Linked DNA regions of Homo sapiens: region 2 is linked to region 1. Evidence: fine-mapped expression QTL. A gene starts in region 1. The other region holds a variant in brackets. All regions are shown on one strand. Distances are from middle to middle.

Evidence for each region. PIP is the estimated chance that this variant, and not a neighbour inherited with it, causes the effect. A credible set is the group of variants that fine-mapping cannot tell apart.
Region 2: its variant is the best candidate, but not a certain one, in a credible set for the expression of SOX12 in whole blood (TOPMed, PIP 0.71).

The regions. Positions count from the first base shown.
Region 1 is chr20:322,810-328,173 of GRCh38, forward strand. SOX12 (SRY-box transcription factor 12) reads left to right here and starts at 2,743. Exons shown (of 1, transcript NM_006943.4): 1 at 2,743-5,364. The coding sequence starts at 3,116. The coding sequence ends at 4,063. NRSN2-AS1 (NRSN2 antisense RNA 1) reads right to left here and starts at 2,443. Exons shown (of 3, transcript NR_109990.1): 1 at 2,333-2,443. RefSeq lists silencers at 1,613-1,872, 2,433-2,742, 2,853-3,232, 3,303-3,362, 3,383-3,872 and 2 more.
Region 2 is chr20:295,020-300,383 of GRCh38, forward strand. It overlaps ZCCHC3 (zinc finger CCHC-type containing 3), which reads left to right and starts at 2,551. Exons shown (of 1, transcript NM_033089.7): 1 at 2,551-5,302. The coding sequence starts at 2,568. The coding sequence ends at 3,779. RefSeq lists silencers at 2,655-2,744, 2,925-2,994. The variant G/A (reference allele first, on the strand shown) is at 2,263.

The DNA.
Region 1 (5,364 bases):
TTGAGATAAAGTCTCTGTCTCCCAGGCCGGAGTGCAGAGGTACAATCATTACAACTTCCACCTTTCCGGCTCAAGCAATCCTCCTGCCTCAGCCTGCCAAGTAGCTAGGACTACAGGCAGGCACCACCCTGCCCAGCTAATTTTTGTACTTTTTTTTGTAGAGTAAGGGTTTCACCATGTTGCCCAGGCTGGTCTTGAACTCCTGGCCTTAAGTGATCTGCCTGCCTCAGCCTCCCAAAGTGCTAAGACTACAGCTGTGAACCACTGTGCAGGGTCAAATGTTTATTAATGGATGCATGCATGGATGGAAGAAGGAAAGGAGGCAGGTGTGAATAATGAATGCAGCATTTTCACTGCTGAGAATAAAGAGTGAAATCCTGGTCCAAATCAGTTTGGCAGTGAGTAAGGTTAGGAACTATTCACATACATTGGAATAATAATAGCAGCAGCAGCTACAGGGTCAGAGACAGATCTTTGAGAGGCCATAAGCATTGAAAAGATTGTGGTACCTATCACACACCGTCTAAAATAAAACAAATATTTTATTTATGGGAAAAGTGTTAAGGTGTTGATAATTCCAAGAAAGCTTTTATTTGTCCTACAATCATTACTTTGATACCTTTTCTGAAATCCTAGAGCTGTCCCCACTCTGCCCATTTTTTTTTCTCATTATGGTGATGTCTCTGGGTTGCTGGTGACCTGCGTAACTATTGGGAAATCTAGTTTCTCAAAACTTTTAGTTTTTTTTTAGACAGGGTCTCACTCTGTCACTCAGGCTGGAGTGCAGCGGCTCACTGCAACATCCGCCTCCTAGGTTCAAGCGATTCTCATACCTCAGTCTCCTGAGTAGCTGGGATTACAGGTACGCGTCACCAAGCCTGACTCATTATTTTGTACTTTTAGTAGAGACAAGGTTTCACCATATCGGCCAGGCGGATCTCGAACTTCTGACCTCAAATGATCCGCCCGCCTTGGCTTCCCAAAGTGCTGGGATTACAGGTGTGAGCCACCGCGTCCCGTCTATCATAAGTTTTATTGAACATTGCCTAGGTATCAGGATGTGTTTACATGCATTATCTCATTTAATCTGTAAAACCACCATGTGAGGGAGAAACTGAATTATCCCCATTTTCAGGATAAGGAAAAGGAGGGACTGGGAATGTGAACTCAGGAAGTGTGACTCCATCGGGTAGACTGCTCAGGCTGCAGATGTAAAGGTTTTACACGTAGGCTTTTCCAGATCTCAGCTTCTGAAAGGCGGAGGGACCGTTTGGACGGGAGCAGGGCCTCCTCTTCCAAGCACCCTGTGCCTTTAAGAGTCGCCCCCTCCCTCCAGGGATGCTCCAATTTCTTTCTCCCCACCACCCCCACCCCGCCCCCCGCGCCGCGGAGCCGCACCTCGGTCCTTCCTCCCCGCCCCACACCCTCAAGCTCGGCTCTTGGCCTTCGCTCGTCCAGAAGTGGGTGAGCTGTACCGCCAGAGGCGCATTCTCCTAGCCCCAAACCATGCCCGCTACGCCCCAGCGGAATGCCACCTTAAAGACCCTAATCCGGGCACCTCCCAGCTCCTGCTTCCCAAGGGCGAGGCCTCAGCGCCCCCTCCCATCGCCCATGCTCACGACGCCGTGAAGGTGACCTCCCCCAGGGGCGGCACACGCCCAGTGGTGCCCGAACTGGCTCACACGTGGTGAGCCGGGAGCGCGCGGCCCCTCCCCGCCACGCGCCTCGTGCCGGCCACCCGGCCACGCCCCCAGGACTGGCTCCGCCCCGTGCCCCTGCACGCTTCTCCAGGCTTGGGTGGGGCGACGCGCCCAAGTCGGGCACCGGGCAGGCTACGGGGTGGGGTAGGACCTGGGAATGGCGCACCCACGCATCCTCGAATGTCGCCTGCGGTTTGTGAAAAGCGGGAAGTCCGCCCAGCTCAGGACCTTTGGCTGGCAGGCGAGGTGCCCCGCGGCCCTTGGTGCTGAGCAGGGGAGAGACAGCTGGGACCGCGAGCCTGGGAATCGAATCCTAGTCTGCGTGTCCTCGGTGCTTCCTATTTGGAAACTGGGCATCATATTATCATATTCCCTTCTCCCTCCGGATTCTTATGGAGCTTCGAACGAGATTAAATATACATATATATGAGAAAGGGATTTGTTCACTAGGTCCAAAAGCATTTGCTGGTCCCATATGTGGTCGGACCCTGTGTGTAGTAGGCGGGGGGCAACATCTACGACAACCTGAGTTCGTCCCCTTAAGAAGCTTTCCTGAGTCTTGGGCCCCCCAAATTCTCTTCTGGGATGGTCCGAAAAGACGTCCCTGAAAGAGGAAAGGGCGGAAATCCTACCTGACGGCAGGTGTCTCGGAATGAGCTAAAATTTAAAAGGCAACGCGGGGCAGGGACAAGCGTCCAGCGTCAGATGGAAGCAGGCTCGCGTCCCCTACCCTTCCTCCAACCCCTAACCTAAGAAAAGAAACCGATCTCGCCGGTCTCCCCCAATCCTAGCCGCGAGACCGCCCAGCCCCGCAGCCCGAGCCCCGCCCCGCTCCGGCGGCCAGCGATTGGGAGATGCAAATACCGGCTTCTCTGCCCAGCAACGGGTGACGCGGCGCCCGAGCGCGAGGCGGGGCCCGGCCGCAGCCCAAGCGGGCACCTCGGTGTTTACACGGGGCGGCCCCGCGCGCGCCGCAGCGGCCCGCAGACGGCGAGGGGGAGGGGTGGTGCGCGCGCCGGCGGGGCCGCGCGGGGAGAAAGACACTGAAAGGCGTCGGCGGCCGGGCGGGGAGCGGCGCGCGCGGGCCGCGGCGGAGCCAGAGGCTGCAGGAAGAGCCCGCGGGGGCCCGGAGGGTGCGATTCCTCGGCCCCCGCAAAACAATGTGTGTTGTGAGCCAGGACGCAACTTGCCGGAGGCGGCGGGGGCGCGCCGAGCCCGCCTGAGACCGCGCTGACCTTCTCCCCCCGCCGTCCGTTGGGCCCGAGCGCCCAGCTCCTCGCTCCCCAGTTCGCGGGGGCCGGGCCGAGCCGCGGGGCGGGGCCGCCCCTCCGTCGCCGCTGCCTCCTCCCCCACCCCCAGCCGCGGAGGATGCGGACGGCCCCCGGCGGCGTCTAGCGGCCCCGGGCCCAGGCGCGATGGTGCAGCAGCGGGGCGCGAGGGCCAAGCGGGACGGCGGGCCGCCGCCCCCGGGACCCGGGCCGGCCGAGGAGGGGGCGCGCGAGCCCGGCTGGTGCAAGACCCCGAGCGGCCACATCAAGAGGCCGATGAACGCATTCATGGTGTGGTCGCAGCACGAACGGCGGAAGATCATGGACCAGTGGCCCGACATGCACAACGCCGAGATCTCCAAGCGCCTGGGCCGCCGCTGGCAGCTGCTGCAGGACTCGGAGAAGATCCCGTTCGTGCGGGAGGCGGAGCGGCTGCGGCTCAAGCACATGGCGGATTACCCGGACTACAAGTACCGGCCGCGCAAAAAGAGCAAGGGGGCGCCCGCCAAGGCGCGGCCCCGCCCCCCCGGTGGTAGCGGTGGCGGCAGCCGGCTCAAGCCCGGGCCGCAGCTGCCTGGCCGCGGGGGCCGCCGAGCAGCGGGAGGGCCTTTGGGGGGCGGGGCGGCGGCGCCCGAGGACGACGATGAAGACGACGACGAGGAGCTGCTGGAAGTGCGCCTGGTCGAGACCCCGGGGCGGGAGCTGTGGAGGATGGTCCCGGCGGGACGGGCCGCTCGGGGACAAGCGGAGCGCGCCCAAGGGCCGTCGGGCGAGGGGGCGGCCGCCGCCGCCGCCGCCTCCCCGACACCGTCGGAGGACGAGGAGCCGGAGGAAGAGGAGGAGGAGGCGGCAGCGGCTGAGGAAGGTGAAGAGGAGACGGTGGCGTCGGGGGAGGAGTCGCTGGGCTTTCTGTCCAGGCTGCCCCCTGGCCCGGCCGGCCTGGACTGCAGCGCCCTGGATCGCGACCCGGACCTGCAGCCTCCCTCGGGCACGTCGCACTTCGAGTTCCCGGACTACTGCACCCCCGAGGTTACCGAGATGATCGCGGGGGACTGGCGCCCGTCTAGCATCGCAGACCTGGTTTTCACCTACTGAGCCCACCGTCAGCGGGGCGCGCACGCCCCCAAACCAGCTGTTTACATACAGGAATCAGGTATTGGGGCCCCTCGGAGGCCGAGGCTGGCACCCCATCTCCCGCGCAGCCTGCCCCCTCCTGGACGTGCCCATCCCCCCTCAGATCCAGACATGCCCCTCCCCCGCAGACACACCCCAAGGCAGCCCAACCCCCACCCCTTCCCCGACACCCAAGCCCCTCCCCACGTCGCCCCCTCCTGCACAGCCACCAGCAGCCAGCCCCCTCCGATACACCTCCCGTCCTCTCCTACAGACCTGCACCCCTCCCCCCTTTTGCACACGCCCCTCCTCGTGGCCGGAGGACCCGCCCCCTCCTTTGCTCCGGAATCTCTCCTCCCTCGCCCGGCCCGCCTTCTCTGGGTTAGGGGGGCGATGCGGCCGGGTGGCAACGCACGCGCCTCCTGCGCCCCTCCCTTCCCTGGGGGGAGGGGCGCACCCCTTTTATCCCCGGAGCGCTAGGGCCCGCCCCTCCGCTGGGGCCCACCCCCTTCGTGCGCATGCTTAATGCTTCTGGGGAGGAGGGGGCTGGTCCCAGCGGAGCCGCACTCTTCGCCCGCTCCGGGCAAAAGCGGGGGCGAGTGTAGAGCGATCCTGGGAAATCCTTTGATCCGGGAGCCCTAGGTTTCCTCTCCAGCCAACGGGGCGTCGCTGCCTTAATGGGAGGAGCACTCGGAAGGGTTGGTTTGGGCCTGAAACTCTCCCAAGTGGCATAGCCCCTTTTCCGGTATGGGGTCTCCTACACCCACGCGCACCACCTCTCCGGTCGCGTGGCTGCCTCTACAGCCTACCTATACGTCCCTTTTTCCCCCCAACTGGGAATTGAGAGGTAAGGTCTTTCTCTGGAAATCCAGCAGTAGAGGAAGGGACCACCCAAGAAAACTAAAAACCAAGGCACCTTACCAGTCTGTCTGGGGACAGGATCCCTGCTGCACCTTCCCCACCCCCTCCTGGGAAGTGCCCCCTCACCTCAGGGCACCCGCAACCTGGGCTCCTCCCTGAGCGCACCGGCCCTTCCTGTCACCCAGGTCCACCCTCAGTACTCAAGCTGCAGTATACAGCGGGAAAAACTGAGGCACTTTGGTGCTAGGGGTTTGGGACTGAGGCGTGGAGAGCAGATGTGATGGCAGGAAGACTCTCGCTTTTAAACATCTGGTTTGGGAGAGACCATCGACTTGGCCAGTGAGACTGAGAATGGATTCCGAGTAGTGATGGGCCGTTTGCACCTCGGTTTTTCCACGTGAGAAATGGGGAGAACGCTGCTG
Region 2 (5,364 bases), 28 kb before region 1:
TGCAAAATTTGACCTGGAAAAAATGAAACTGACCAAAAGGATGGCCCTACACATACCAATGAAATTGTACAACAGAAGAAGATATGATTAGCAAAATTGGACATGGAGCCAGAACCTAATCCACAAGTCAAATATTTTCAAAATACAGACAGATGCCTTTAAAGTCCAACACAAAACAAAAATGCTCAAAATACGTTGATTATATGAGAGTTCCTGACTAGTGCAGTAAGACAAGAAAAAGTATAAGATTTGAAAAAAGAGACAAAACCTTCATTATTCACAGACGATATGATTGGCAATACAGAAAAGTAAAGAGATTCCAAAAACCACTGGAAATTTTTTAAGGTTTCAACTTTGTTGCCAGATATGGGGTCAGTACACAAAATTCAATCGTGTTTCCTCTAACGGACACCAACAAACCATATGTAACTTCTGATTTACAATAATTTCACTTACAATAGCAGTCAAACCACGTGGTACTTTGGAATAAATCCCCAAAAGTATGTAAGACCTTTATGAAGAAAACTATAATATTTTATTGAAATTCATAAAATAAGGCCTAAATAAGTGAGAAATCAAGTGGGGTCATTGATGGAAAGACTCCGTGTTATAAAGTGGTAATTCTGTACAAATGCAGTGCAACGCCAATTAAGATCTCATAGTTTCCTGGAACTTAGTAGGCAGGTTGTGAAATTTATATGGAGGTTCCAAATATAGCTGAGACCATCTTAAAGAAGACGAAAGAGAGAGAAGAATGTTTCCCATAAAAGAAGAAACTGGAGTTCAGATTTCTCTTTGGAAACTGAAAGATCCCCCCACAGTGGACCCTCACTTCTGGAGAGGAATATTCAGCTACAGTTGACTAGCAGTTGCCCCTTCAGATAGAATATTCGATCTCCAGTTCACCCAGTATATCTTCTACTTAAGGCACCTGCCTGACCCTTGCAGATATTTGATTATGTGATAGTTACCTGGAGTGAGGGCTTAAGATAAGAGGAATGGAAGAGATTGTTTAAAATACATCTATTGTTTGGTTGTGTAAGTATTCTCCTCATGGTGAAACTTGACCAGGCAAGTAGAAAGAATAACAGAGAAGTATGTGAATCTAAGACATTGATGTTTCTGGTAATGGTGAAGTTCCGAGTATGATCACGGGAATGCGTGGCTGAGAAGGGATAAAGGAAATGGTGCCTGAGGATATAAAGTGAGAGGACTGGAAAGTGCAAACGGCCCAAGTCAGTGGCTCCCCTGAGACCAATACCAGCAGTTGGGATGAAGGGAATCTGCCTGTTAACAAGGTTTCCTAGGATCTGATGCACAGTTCTTGATCCACGGCGTCAGAAATAAAGTGGTTAAATAAATATAAGCTACCGGCCGGGCGCGGTGGCTCACGCCTGTAACCCCAGCACTTTGGGAGGCCGAGGCGGGCGATCACGAGGTCAGGAGATCGAGACCATCCTGGCTAACACGGTGAAATCCCGTCTCTACTAAAAATACAAAAAATTAGCCAGGCGTGGTGGCGGGCGCCTGTAGTCCCAGCTACTCAGGAGGCCGAGGCAGGAGAATGGCGTGAACCCGGGAGGCGGAGCCTGCAGTGAGCCGAGATTGAGCCACTGCACTCCAGCCTGGGCGACAGACCAAGAGTCCGTCTCAAAAAAGAAAGAAAGAAAGAAATATAAGCTACCTATACGTGGGGCTGCCTATTAACTCCGCCAAGTGACTTAACTCCTGCCTCTTTATCTGTAAAATGGGCATAATTACAGCATTGTTTTTGGAAGATTCCATGTAATAAAGTCTGAAGTGTGCTTAACACAGTACTGGGAACTTAAGCAGCACTCACACTTCATCCTAAATACGACGAAAGTCTTTTCAAAAAAATAAAAATTAATGCAATATGACTTACTTGGAAATGTATCAAAAAATAAAGACCGATGAATGGATCGAGGCGTAGTGTGACAGAGTAAAATTTTAATGATAAAAAGTTAATGGTAAAATGTTCACTGTAAAACTTTCAACTTTTCTTCTTGAAAACGTGCATAATCCGACGTGGGAAAAAAAATAACGCATTGCAGTCAGTTCTGGGGAAACGGAAAGCTAAGTTTTAATTTTGCTATTGCTTTTGCTTTTTTAACAGAAAAGGTACAAAAAAGAAAAAATGGGAGAGATGTTGCCGAACTCCGTCCCGCCTGTGGGCTGTGGGCCGTTAGCAAAGCTGCTAGCATGAAATCGTCGAGCACCGCTTGCGAAACGCCAAATCCTCGA[G/A]AGCGAGGCCGGAGGCTGCCAAACCCGCGCTGGGGAAAGGGCCGCCTCCGGGCGCCCCATCCCGCTGCGGACGGAGGTGAGGTTGGAGCGAGCGCTGGCGGAAGAGAGGCTCAGCGCAGGGGGCGCAGAGCCGGCGCTGGCCAATATGCGCCGCATGTGATACCTTTGAGGGCGCGGCGGGGGAGGGTAGCGTCAAATTTCAAAAAAAAAAAAAAACCAAACCCACACAGCCCCGGCGGGCGGGCGCGCGCGATGGGCGCCCTTTGGCTGCGGGAGCGAGTGGAGGATGCTGGGAAGGAGGTAAAATGGCCACCGGCGGCGGCGCGGAGGAAGAGAGGAAACGGGGGCGGCCGCAGCTTCTGCCCCCCGCGCGGCCCGCGGCCCGGGGCGAGGAGGCCGACGGCGGCCGCGAGAAGATGGGCTGGGCCCAGGTGGTGAAGAATCTAGCCGAGAAGAAGGGCGAATTCCGCGAGCCGCGGCCGCCGCGGCGGGAGGAGGAAAGCGGCGGCGGTGGAGGGAGCGCCGGGCTCGGCGGCCCCGCGGGCCTGGCGGCGCCGGACCTCGGCGACTTCCCACCGGCTGGCCGCGGGGATCCGAAGGGCCGTCGGAGAGATCCGGCCGGCGAGGCGGTGGACCCCCGCAAAAAGAAGGGCGCTGCGGAGGCGGGCAGGAGGAAGAAGGCCGAGGCGGCGGCGGCCGCCATGGCGACCCCGGCCAGGCCCGGCGAGGCCGAGGACGCGGCCGAGCGGCCCCTCCAGGATGAGCCGGCGGCGGCGGCAGGCCCGGGCAAGGGTCGCTTCCTCGTCCGCATCTGTTTCCAGGGAGACGAGGGCGCCTGCCCGACCCGGGACTTCGTGGTAGGAGCGCTTATCCTGCGCTCCATCGGCATGGACCCGAGCGACATCTACGCGGTCATCCAGATCCCGGGCAGCCGCGAATTCGACGTGAGCTTCCGCTCAGCGGAGAAGCTGGCCCTGTTCCTACGCGTCTACGAGGAGAAGCGGGAGCAGGAGGACTGCTGGGAGAACTTTGTGGTGCTGGGGCGGAGCAAGTCCAGCTTGAAGACGCTCTTCATCCTCTTCCGGAACGAGACGGTGGACGTGGAGGACATTGTGACTTGGCTCAAGCGCCACTGCGACGTGCTGGCCGTGCCGGTGAAAGTGACCGACAGGTTTGGGATCTGGACCGGGGAGTACAAATGCGAGATCGAGCTGCGCCAGGGGGAGGGCGGGGTCAGGCACTTGCCAGGGGCCTTCTTCCTGGGGGCCGAGAGGGGCTACAGCTGGTACAAGGGGCAGCCCAAGACATGCTTTAAATGTGGTTCCCGGACCCACATGAGCGGCAGCTGCACGCAGGACAGGTGCTTCAGGTGCGGGGAGGAGGGGCACCTGAGCCCTTACTGCCGGAAGGGCATCGTGTGCAACCTCTGTGGCAAGCGAGGACACGCCTTTGCCCAGTGTCCCAAAGCAGTGCACAATTCCGTGGCAGCTCAGCTAACCGGCGTGGCCGGGCACTAAACACCCGCCTGCCTGCCAGGGTGAACACACAGCCAGCTTATCCCTCTTAAGTGCCAAAACTTTTTTTTAAACCATTTTTTATCGTTTTTGAAGGAGATCTTTTTAAAACCTACAAGAGACATCTCTCTATGCCTTCTTAAACCGAGTTTACTCCATTTCAGCCTGTTCTGAATTGGTGACTCTGTCACCAATAACGACTGCGGAGAACTGTAGCGTGCAGATGTGTTGCCCCTCCCTTTTAAAATTTTATTTTCGTTTTTCTATTGGGTATTTGTTTTGTTTCTTGTACTTTTTCTCTCTCTCCTTGCCCCCCTCCCGCCCTCCCCGCCCCATACCTTTTCTTCCCCTGGATTTTCACCCTTTGGGCTGCCTTGCTCATCTTTATGCCCCAGCACTAGGTACGGGGCCCAACACGTGGTAGGCACTCCATCAGTGTTTGCTGAATTGAAAACATTGTTGACTGTGGCTTCTATCAGAGTGTCTACCTTTTGCAGCTCTTCCCCTCCCTCATTTAATTTGCTGCTTTTAATCTACGTGGTCTGAGAATTTGTGAAACCAGTGTTGTTAGAAGTGTATATAATCTGAATCAATAAGCTCTGAATGGTGGCCAAGGGCCTCTCTTATGGCACAAAGATGCATGGACTTCATGACAGCTCTTTTGGTGGCTCAGAAGCCATTTTTTATAGAATCATGGAATCTAGAATATTCCTGCTGGAAAGAACCTGAGAGTTGGTTTGGACCAATTCCCTGGTTTTCCAGCAGATGAAACAGGCCCAAAGAGGTTAAATGACTGGGTGAAAATCACATAGCTGTCTGGTGCCAGAGCCAGCCTATAGTAGAGTCCCCTGACCCCAAGCCCGGTGCTCATTCCACTACCTCTCACACTTCACAACAATTTCCTCAACACTTGAGGGCCCAGAAAGTCTGATCTCTCCAGAATGATCAGCCCAGAGGAATGCTGAGAAATCACCTGGAGGAGGGAGCAGAAAGAGAAGGTTTTTAAGGAGGGGCTTCTGAATACTTGGGAGATACGGAACGGACCAAGGACCACACTCCAGGGTGCATTCGTTGCTCCCTGGGGCACCACTTCTGGATTACAGTGTGCCAGGTCCTTTGGAGGCCCTACCCCTTCCCCATTCATTGCCACCAGTGAGAAATGGGGGTGCCCCTGTGTAAAGAAACCTACCAAAGGTTTACATTTGCACCTTAGCCTCAATAGCTACGAACCCTAGAGAAGCAGCTAGCTGGAGCTCATGTGCAACTCCTGATTCTCAGGAGAAAGATGGATTTTAACCCAAAATTATGAGTGAGCTGTTAACTCTAAAATGTACTTGGGAGATAGGCCAAGCGAGAGGTCATGGGCCAACTAAGTGTTATCCAGTAGAAAAGACAGTACACTGCTTTTCTTTTAGTGTTTGCTTTTCCTTTGCTATATGTTTTGCTATTTCCTTGTGGCTTAGAATGTAAAATTGATTGTTAAAAGTTTTGTTCTGAATAAATATTTATCTTTTGTATTGCTAAAACTGGTGCACTATTTCCTTTCAAAGTGTTAGATGCACAGTTACCCAGCTCCAGACCGTATTTC